Linked DNA regions of Homo sapiens: region 2 is linked to region 1. A link means that fine-mapping ties the variant in region 1 to the expression of a gene that starts in the linked region. Tissue or cell type: whole blood. Region 1 holds a variant in brackets; the other region holds the start of a gene. All regions are shown on one strand. Distances are from middle to middle.

What was found. PIP is the estimated chance that this variant, and not a neighbour inherited with it, causes the effect.
Region 2: SPSB1 starts here. The variant in region 1 is fine-mapped to the expression of SPSB1 in whole blood (INTERVAL, PIP 0.94).

What each region holds. Positions count from the first base shown.
Region 1 is chr1:9,367,842-9,373,314 of GRCh38, reverse strand. It overlaps SPSB1 (splA/ryanodine receptor domain and SOCS box containing 1), which reads right to left. Exons shown (of 3, transcript NM_025106.4): 3 at 3,783-5,473. Among named protein-coding and RNA genes, the nearest start is that of LINC02606, 58 kb to the left of the region's middle. RefSeq lists an enhancer at 540-2,247. The variant A/G (reference allele first, on the strand shown) is at 2,374.
Region 2 is chr1:9,289,880-9,295,431 of GRCh38, reverse strand. SPSB1 (splA/ryanodine receptor domain and SOCS box containing 1) reads right to left here and starts at 2,538. Exons shown (of 3, transcript NM_025106.4): 1 at 2,361-2,538. RefSeq lists silencers at 1,604-1,893, 2,434-2,503, 2,574-2,653, 2,704-2,873.

The DNA.
Region 1 (5,473 bases):
GTCAGTCCTGAAGCCAGGCCCCTTCTCCCCAGTCACTCAGCCTCCACACATGGCCAGCCTGGAAGGTGAGGTTCCTTTTCCACTGGAGTTGATTCCACCTGTGGACATCAGAAACCCTGGCGGCCCCACTTTGCTGAACAGAAATCACTGGCAAAGCTGAACATCTTTCGAAAGGTAGGGCCCAGGGATGTAGGTGGGAGAGGGATTAAAATGTTTGCTTCTTAGGCTGTAAAGAGAGAGGAAGACATGCTCTGAGAGGCACAGTCCTGGGTTGATGAGGCCCTTGTCCCTACATGCTGTGCTGAGGTTGTGGGAAATACCCATGAGCAGCTCCCATGGGGATAGCCCTGCTGGAAGGGTCTTGCATGGGCCGTGGCTTGTAGACCCGAATGTTGTCTCCAAGCTCCTGGTTCAGCTTTCCAGGGTCTAATTTCCTTAGGGAAACTGAGGCTGAAGGATAGCCCTCAAGGTTTCCCTGCCTGGACTCCAGTATTTCTCCCTTGGACCGACTTTGTTCATTCCTAAGATGAGCACTTTTGTGCCTGGGTGAGAAGTTTTTGTGCCTGGCGTTGATGCCTTGATCGGCAGCTCGGGGACTGCCTGTGCTCTGAGACACAGAGCAGAGAGAGCTGGGAGGGCCACGCGAACAGAATCTTCTATACCCGTGGTCTCCAAGCTTCTGTGGGTCTCAGCCCCTGGCAGGGCTCTGAAGGACCATGGGGATACAGCAGAGAGGTCTGCATAGGTGCAGCTCTGCATGTAACTGCATGCAACTCTGCATGGACGCAACTCTGCATGTAACGCTGGGACCCCAGCAACCTTCAGGACAATGTTATCTGCGTCATCTATGGGTGTTCGAAGATGCCTATTCGCAGGCCCATCCTATTGCATATCAAGCTTACCAGGATTTTGCTTTCCTCCCCTAGGTTCCTCCGGGCGATTCAGATGCAGGGAGCATCTGTGAACTTCAGGGTGAAATCCCCGATTCGGTCCTGGTACTCACATGCACTTGTAAGACACATCTTTGGGGACAGCTGTAAGGTTCACCCCCAAACGCCACCAGGGAAGGGAGCTGGAGGAGACCTTTGCCTTTCCTGCCTATAAAGCAGACCCAGTAGAGGCTGCAATTGGGGTGGGGCAGGAAGACAAACCCTGCACAAGGTCAGTGCCACCTCTGTCTAGCTAGCTGCCCTCAGCCTGAGCTTTTCCACGGAGAATATTCCTCTACCCAGGAAAATCATTATCAGCCCGGCAGCAACAGCAGCAGCTGTTCTCTGGCCCAGGAAGAAAGGTTCCAGAGAAGAGTTAGTTTTCTCTTTTCTTACCAAAAAAAAAAAAAAAAATCAGAACCCAGGAGAGAACACCACGGTCTGAGTGCACCAGGGAGATGGTCGGCCCGAGTCCTGCCTGCCAGCAGCTGAGTCTCAAGAAACCCGAGGAGAGCCATGAGCGGCTTCCTCTGCATTTGCTGGGCCAGGACATCATTTGTTGACTCTAGAGCCCAGTCCCTAGCTCACGATTTCCTCCCTGGTTGCCATGGCCCCATACAGAAAACACAGCAAACTCCTGGCCCTGGGCAGCTCATTTATTTCAAATATTCCTTGCAGCTGGAATCCAACCATGTTTGGGTGTCTGGACTGGAGCATGAACTAATTGCTCTGTCTTCGGCCCCCTCCCCAGCTCCCCCGGCATAGTTTATGGTTCAGTAAATTCCACATTCCTCATCTCGTCGAGGAGCGGAGAAGGCGGGAGGGAAGCTTCGTGCTGAAGGGTGGGGACGGGAGGACTCTTCCCATCTATGGCCAAGCCCTGAGAGTCTGCTACCTGCTTGAAGGCAGGGGATTAATTACAACCACATGGGCCAAGTCTGCACAGATGGTTTTATTAATCCCACTCCCTTCGGCACAAAACCCTACTCCCCGAGAAGTCTCCTGGCAGCACAAGGGCCCTGATTTTTCCCTGTGCCTCCCCCCGCCCCCAGCGCCTGACCCCAACCCCACTCCTCCCCTGCTGCCCCCTTCAAAGGAAGCGGAGTTCCAACTGCAACCCAGACATGAACTCCAACCTGAAAATCATTTTACACCACCCCTTTCATCCAACCGCATCTGGGAAAGGCATCTAGGGGACCCTCTTCCCAATACCCACCTTGACCTTTGGAGACTTTACCTGGGAAGGAAGATCATTATCAGGAAGTTGGTTTAGGAATGTCTGGTCCATTCTTTTTTTGGAGGGGACAGAGTCTCGCTCTGTAGCCCAGGCTGGAGTGCAGTGGTGCGATCTCGGCTCACTGCAGCCTCCGCCTCTCAGGTTCATGCCATTCTCCTGCCTTAGCCTCCTGAGCAGCTGGGACTACAGGCACGCACCACCATGCCC[A/G]GCTAATTTTTGTATTTTTAGTAGAGATGGGGTTTCACCATGTTGGCCAGGATGGTCTCGATCTCTTGACCTTGTGATCCGCCCGCCTCGGCCTCCCAAAGTGCTGGGATTACAGGCGTGAGCCACCGCGCCCGAGCATCTGGTCCATTCTTAGAGACAAAGTCGCAACCCAGAAACTGCCATTTTCCAGAAATGCAGGAGCTTTTAAAGCATTTGTTTGCACACTCGCTAAGACTCCAGGTCCTGTTCGGAAAGCCTCATCTTACCCTTGCTATCCTCCTGTGAGATAGGTACTACACTACAGTGACTGCTGTTTTCCGGAGGCTCGTCCAAGGCCACAAAGCCAGTATTTGAATCCAGGTCTGACTCAGGAGCGCATGCGCTCCTCATTGGGCCAACCCACCGACACCATGGAATAATTTCCCTCTACCCAGCAACTTTGCAAAACAGCTGACACTGTCACAAATAGTGGTGTGCAAACTCTCTTAGGCAAGGTCACCTAGGGAGTTGAGGAAATGCATATTCCTGGGCCTGGCCCTAGAAGTGTTGACTTGGTACATCTCAGGTGGGGCCCTGGAATCTGCATTTTCACAACCCCCCTCCCAGATGCTGCTGATGTGTGTGGTCTGAGGATAGCTGGTCAGGAGGCTCTTAGAGAAAGGAACATGGGTCTTTGGGCCCAGGGATCTTGGGCCCTCAGGCCAGGCACTTTTCACGGCACTATCAGGTCCCAACACGCCTTCAGAATGAAGCGTCCCCACCGCAAGCTTAATGTGCTCTTGCTAATTCTTTGGAAACTAGCCGTGACACGTGATCACATCTTAGTAAATTTCTTGACTGTCATTTTATCACCCATTGATCCCCTAAATAAGCCAGAGTTTCCTGTCCTTTCTGTCGGGGGCTCTGCCCACATGGCTAGCAGAACAAGTTCACTCTGCAACAGTTCAGCAAACATCACCGTGCACTCAGCCCCAGGGGACACAAAGACGAATGAAGGACCTGCTCCTTCCCCTAGAGCCTGGACTCTGAGGACGCCCACAATGGCTCACACTCTGCTCCTAAAAAGCCCACGGTCAACTCAAGTTCTACAACCCCACAAACCAACCTGATGCGCTCACGAAGGCACAGAATCACTGTCTGTTAGACTTGGCAAGTTTCTGCAGCTTGGGCTGCCAGGCTGAGGAACTTCTGAAATGGGGATGAGGCTGTTCTGGGGTCCTCCCTCCAGGACTCTCCTTCTCCTTCTCTGTCTGGGGCTTTGCCTGGCATCCCACCCTCTGCCAAGGGGTGGTAGGGAGTCAGCCCATCATCTGCTGAAAACTGTGGGCCGTGGAGCTGGCTGGACCCAGGAGGGGTCAGCTATGTCTCTTTCCCCTCCCCCGAGGCACAAACGAGGAATTCAAAAATGGTTTGATATTTTAACAAACGTTCCTTTATTAGGTTACTGACTATTATCAACCATCATAAAATAGAACGGGAGTTTCAAAACTGTACAAGCCACAAGGCTCTGGGCTGGTAGGAAAGAAGGGTGGGGTCGAGGGTCCCAGGGTGTCGGGGGGTGGGAGATGCAGAGAGAGCTAGAGGGTCACCCGGCATCTGTGAGGACGGCTGGGTCAAGGCCATAAGCTGGGATCTGTACAAGGGAAACATTCATCAGAATGTGACCCACCTGAAACAGGAGGGAGGAAAATCTTTAAAAGTCTTACAGGTAAGGTCCCCTGCCCCGAAAAAAAAAACCGTCAAAATAATAAGGGGGTAATGTACATTTCTCACCCAGTCTTGGCACCAATTTTGTGCTTTAAAAAATATACTCCACTGTAAGATTTACTTAAAAAAAGGTACTCTACAGCAGCTGTTTAAAACATAATTCTTACAGACAAATATATATATATGTATGTATATATATTAAACATTTTAAACAAATAAAGTCATCTATTGTACCTGTGCAGAAATGAACCAAAGTTAGACTCTAAGAGAGTTAACTTCAAGCTCAAAGAAATGGCAAAGGCGGTGGCAGGTGCTGGGGTACGCTACGTGGAGGGGTTGCCAGGGATAGGGCACCCCTCTCTTCCGGCAGCCGAGCTACCCCTCTTGAGGCTCTGAGAGGGGTTGGGATGAACTGGGGCTGTTACCCTGGGTCCAGAGCCCCGGCTGGGGTGCTGAGCAGAGACCCGCGCTGGCTTCTGTGAGGCTCGACTCTGCTCCTGGTCTTCCCCATCCCACCCTGCCCCCGGCTTCTCGGGGAATGGAGACCCACTCGCCCTCCCTTCTTAGTTCTGGGGGTCCTCTGGCACACCCAGAGCTTCTGAGGATGCACTTGGGAAATCTCAGCTAGAAAAGCAAAAGCAAAATCAAACCCACATCAAAAGACCCACAGAAGACTAAAGAAATGCAACCCTGTGCAAGGGTGCCTGAGCCCAAGAGTTAGCTGGTTACCTGGAGACACAGGGGAATTGCTGCAGCCCTTCCAGACGGGCCCCCGAAGACACCCAGATTGCACGTGAGGCTATTTCTCCCTGAGGGGCCCGCTAGGGAACTTGGAGCAGAGCCCCCTGGAAACTGCAGGGCAAGGGACCCAGAGACATACTTGTGCCTGGGCACGTGTGCACATGTGCCCAGGGAGGGCGGGCGAGGCATACATATCCCAGGGAGGGCACAGGTGGAAGGAAAGTAACAGAACAGCCAGAGAGAGGGGACTGAAACAGGGTTTCCTTTCTAGATGGAATAAATAAATGGCTTTTGTTATTGTTAAAAGAATAAATACAGGGTACGGGGCACCGGCAGCCAGGATGGGTGCTGGGTGCTTATTTGCCTGCAGACAGTTCTTGGTTTCTGCCTTGGGGTCCATGGTGAGTTTTTGACGTCCTGAGCTTTATCTGCCATGGCATGGCCCCGCTGGGCACCCTGGGCCGGGCACCAGCCCTTGTCTAAGCACCTCTTAGTACCCCTGGTATCTGCTCTCAGAGCTGTGGTACCACCTGCCACCCCCACCACCCTGGGACCCCCAGGTGGCTGCAGCCTTCTCCCAGAGGTGTGGGAAGCACCCGTCCCACCCCGAGCAGATTGGAGCTCAATGTAGGGCTTTCGTAGGAGTTTATTC
Region 2 (5,552 bases), 78 kb after region 1:
CCAGGGCCAGGTCTCTCTTAAGCCGGCATGGCACCCGCCTTGCTCCCTGCTCGGGGCTGTCTGAGCCACTGGGGCCAACATGCTACTGCTTTTGTTTTCTCTGCTGCTAGGGTGGTAGCCAGACTGGAAAAGGAAGACTTGTAAAGTGATTGCCTTAGTCCACTCCACACCTCCCCAACCGCACGCGCGCACACACACACACACACACACACACTCACACTCTCACACACACACACACACTCCATCTACTGGGTAAAGTGCTCCCTGCAGAAGAAAAGCAGCTGTAAGAGAGCAGGAGTGCTTTAAATGATCTAATCCAGCCCATCACTTCACAGCTGGGGAGACACGAAGTGCCTGGCCCATGACCTCAGTGCTGGGGACAGTAACCAAGAGCAACAGTTTCAGGACTGGGGAGTCTTGGTCCACAGCCCTGGCTGTGCAGTCTGGGTAAGTGAACCGCCCTCTCTGGGCCTCTCTAGGACAGGCTGGCCTAGACAGTAAGACAGGACTTCCCTGACTCCAAAATTCCTCAGTGTGGAGAGACCACCTGTGCTGCCCATGCTTAGCCCAGGGCTTTCCACCACTGGGAGGGGGGTCTGAGGAGGGGGACAGGGCAGAAGGGAGAGGCCCCCATCCCCTTCCTTGCTTGCTGTTCTCCTCACACCCCACGATGAGAAATGAAGTTGTGGGCCCAGCCCCCCCAACGAGAAAATTCTTCCAAGGACATCAAACCTTAGTCACCAGGGATGGCGCTTTTACCATGAACACCTGTTAAAACTCAACTCATGACCAGTTTCTGATGCTACAGACTGGAGTGTTTAATTAAATATTACTCACTCAGGAAGCAGCCCCTGCCAACTCACCCCCAAACTGTGTAGTTCATTTTCAGAGAAATGGAGAGAGGAAGAGCCTGCGCTCTCCTCGGGGGCACCAGCAGGGCTTGCCTAGTGGGGTGTCTGTGGCCCAGCATGCCCGGCTATCCAGAACCAAGTAAAGAAATCACCATGAGGAGCAGTACCTAGGAACCAGAGGGCCCCCTGGATGGTCCCCACACACACTCACAGAGAAACACACACAAAGACACACAGACACACACTTGGAGACACACAGACACTCACACATACACAGACGCACTCAGAGACACAGACACAGAGACAGACACAGAGACACGTGTGGACACACAAAGAGACACAAAGACACACACACGCAAAGACACACACAGACACAAAGACACAGAGACACACATTTGCAGAGACAGACACTCAGAGACACAAACTTGCAGAGACACACACCCAAAGACACATACACACTCACACACAGACACACACAAAGACACACAGACATACACAGAGAGGCACACACAAATACACAAAGACGCACTCAGACACACACACACACACACAGTCACTTAGAGTCTCAGGCACACATTGACAGACACACAGACTCACACACACACTCAGAGGCACATAAATACACAGATGCACTTAGAGACACACTCACACACACACCCACATGAACACACAGACACACTCATACGCAGGCACATATTCACAAGGACATGCACAAACACACACGCAGATGCACTCTCAGAGACACCCGCTCTTCCTGCAGACCCGCACCCTCCTCTCGGGGCCGTCCCGTCCTCACCGGAACCTGGACGCCACCGAGCCCAGTACACGCCCGGGGACGGTGACCCATCCGCGGTTCCTCCCGCGGGCCCAGGCCGCCCTTGTTTTTCTGATTTAATCGATTTCCTGACAACCCTCCGGCTCTCCCTCCGCTGCTGGGAGAAGCCGCGGCGGCTCCGGGGCGGCGGGGAGGGCGGCGCTCGGGTGTCCCCGGCAGGCTCCCTGGGGGAGGCGCTGCGGGAGGGTGGGGGCGCCCCGACGGGGGACCGGGCCGCGCCGCCAATCCCGACTCGGACTGGCGGGAAAAGCGAAACTAACTCAGCCGAGCGGGGTCCCGCTTTCCCCGGGCTAAAGGGGGGACGGGTCGGCGGCCCCGGAGCGCCCCAGCCCCTCCTCGGGACCGCAACTCGTTGCGACGGTCCCCGCGCCCCGAGACCCCCGCCGCGCCTCGCCCCGGGACCCCCTGCCCTGCAGCGGCGGCAGCGCGGGGCGGGCCTGGGCCCCTCTCCCAGGAGCCGCGGCGAGGGAGGCGCCCCCGGAGCCACCGCGGGAGGGGCCGCGCCCCGAGTCCCCATCCCGTACTCCACCCGCTCCCCCGCGCCCGGCCCCGCGCCACCCACTCGGTCCCCCAGCGGCGCGATCCCCGCGTCCGCCCTCGCCCGGCCCCCCGCGCCTCCCCCTCCCGGGCCGGTCGCCCACCCATCGGGGTCCCAGGTGCCCCGCGCCGCCTACCGCGCCCGGGGTGCCGCCGCCGCCGCTGCTCTCCAAGGCCGAGGAGGCTCGGGCGCCCGGGCCGCGCCCGCCGCAGGGAGCGAAGTCGCCTCCTCCCCGCGGCCCCGGCCCCGGCGCCGGCGCCTGGAGCCTGGTTCCTGCTGCGAGCGCGCAGGCTGCCCGAGCGCGACTTCTGTGCGGAGGAGAAAAAGCAACCGACGGCTTTAAAGTGAAAAAAAAGAGAAAAGCGCCGGTGGGCGGGGCCGTCCCTGCCCCGCCCCGCCCCGCCCCGCCCCCGACCTCGGGCGCACGGACCACTCAGCACTGCAGGGAAGGCCGGGGGCGCGGGGCGCGGGGCGCGGGGCGCGTCAGCCCGGCGCTGGTTCGGCCGCCCCCTCCGCCCCCTTAGTCCGCAGCCCTCTCCCGAGCCGCCGCCCTGGTGTTGCCGGCCCGAAGCTCGGGTCCCTCCGGAGGCGTCTTTGGGAAACGCGTGGCGCAGGGCCTGGGTTGCAGCCGTGGGAGGCTGGAGTGGGGGCGGGGGTCTTACGAGAAGGAGAAATCTTCGCGGAGAGTGGGGTTGTCCCAGGAACCCCGAGCAAGGCCTCGCCGGCCTCCTCTGAAGTGCCCAGCGGGGACGAGTGGGCAGCCGCCGGGGGTCCAGGGAGCCTCCTGCAGCGCTGTTTCGGCCGCTCGCGTTTCGGTGCCCACGGGGACGGGGGCCTCGGACCTCGAGACCCTGAGGGCGCGGGCACCTGGCATCCGCAGGGCTGCTCCCTGAACAGGTCCCAGCCTCTGGGGACTTGTCCTGTGGCTCTAGCTCGTTCAAGGAATTTTCCTCCCCCTTCCCCGAACAGAGCAGTCACTTGGGACTGGGAAGATTTTAAAGACTTTGCTGTTTTGAGAGCAAAATCTCCTGGCATTCCCCACCCCTCGCTGTGTAGTGTCCATTGAAAACGGTGAGGAGTTAGCCTTTCTGGGGGAGCCGAAACAAATAGCGGGGCTTCCGTAGTTACTGTGTCTTTACCATAACCCAGTACAGTGAGGGTGGGACTAATGACACACTCACTGTAAAGGCGAGGAAACAGTGCCTGGCCCGAGGCCAGCTGTCCAGAGCTTGGAACCCAATTGAACTGTGAGATTACAAAGTTTGATGTCTCTCATTTTACGGTGCTGAAAATCAGTTTGGTTTAGCTTTGTTTGAACTCAGAATAGGATTACGGAGACTCAACCAACTGCCCTGGGCTGGGCGGGCCTGAGTGGGCATTCTGACTTTCCAGGTGCCAGCGGTTTAGGAATGTTGAACCCAGACTAGTCAGGTGGGCAGCCATGGCCAGCAGCTTAGGGGTGCTTCCCATTTAAAAGATCACTTGAGGCTGGAGGTGGTGGCTCTCACGCCCTTAATCCCCACACTTTGGGTGGCTGAGGCAGGCAGATCACTTAAGCCCAGGAGTTCAAGAGCAGCCCGGGCAACAGAGCAAGACACAGACTCTGCACAAAAATTAAATAATAATAATAATAATTGGCCGGGCATGATGGCTCACACCTGTAATCCCAGCGCTTTGGGAGGCTGAGGCAGGTGGATCACCTGAGGTCAGAAGTTCAGGACCAGGCTGGGCTTGGTGGCTCACACCTGTAATCCCAGCACTTTGGGAGGTCGAGGCGGGCGGATCACGAGGTCAGGAGATGGAGACCATCCTGGCTAACACGATGAAACCCGTCACTACTACAAATATAAAAAATTAGCCAGGCGTGGTGGCGGGCATCTGTAAGTCCCAGCTACTTGGGAGGCTGAGGCAGGAGAATGGTGTGAACCCGGGAGGCAGAGATTGCAGTGAGCCGAGATTGCGCCACTGCACTCCAGCCCAGGTGACAGAGCGAGACTCCGTCTCACAAAAAAAAAAAAAAAAAAAAAAAAAGAAGTTCAGGACCAGCCTGGCCAACATGGCAACACTCCATCTCTACTGAAAATGCAAAAATTAGCTGGGTGTGGTGGTACGTGCCTGCGATCCCAGCTACTCGGGAGGCTGAGGCAGGAGAATCTCTTGAACCCAGGAGGCAGAGGTTGCAGTGAGCCGACATCGCACCACTGCACTCCAGCCTGGGCAACAGAGCGAGACTCCATCTCAAAAAAAAAGAAAAAAAAGGTAATAATAATTTTAAAAGAGCATATGACCCCCTCCAGCCACTCTGCAGTTTGAGAACTGTTGTTTACTTGGGAGACTGGTGAGAGCCTCTGGGACAGGCCCATGGGGTGCAGCCCACGTCAGTCATTGCTGAAAATCACAGCTGCCTCTGATGGGTTCATTTCTCCTTGGGAGAGTAGCCCTGTTTGGTGGATTATTCACTGTGTGTGTGGCATCTACCAGACACTGGCATCTCATGGGGCTGGTGCTACGGCCACGTGGCCTGGGGCCATGGTGTTGTCAGCTTTGCTAAGAGGAACTCCACCAAGCCTCACCTCTTAACATCTGGGAAGCTTCCAGGGCAGACTGGGGCACTTTGGAGCTAGAGACCCAGCTTTGATGTTTAAGGCCCTGAAAGACAGTTCCTGATGAAAAGTCTTCAGCACCCCCACCCCACCCCCCTTCGGCGTTAATCTGGAAATCTCAGCTCTTGATCCAGTTGAATAATTAGACCCTGCTGACCTAAATTTCCCAGAAGAACCCCTGGGGAGTGGGCCTTCTCTCCTCCAGGACGCTGGGCAGGTTGGCCGGATGATGGAAGGCTGGTCAGCCGGCAGTGACTGCTGCAGCATGGGGCAATGTTGAGCAATCCTGGAAGCCAGTTTATGTGTCAGAAGGGCTCAGAATCACCCTAGCATGCTGATACTATTGTTTGTTAAAAAAAGATACATAATCTTGCAACATTGTGACATAAGCTGATAGATACTATCCAAAAATTTGAAGGGTGACTCAGGACTTATACAAAGATCTGTGTACTGCAGGGGTGAGTCGGGAGGGAGGTGGCTCTGGGCTCCCAGTGGTGTCATCCCCAACCCCCTCCCCAACTCCACCCCACCCCCACACACATTTTATCACTTGCATCAGCACAATTTGCTCATGTCTTTAATCTGTCTCCGGGAAATGGTGAAGAGAAACTTGATAGATGGTGAATTAGCATCAGCTGCTTTTTCTGATGATGGTTCTGAGCCTTGAGCTCTTAGCACAGAATCCTGCTGCCCTCACAAGTGTTAAAGGCTGCCATCTTCTCTGA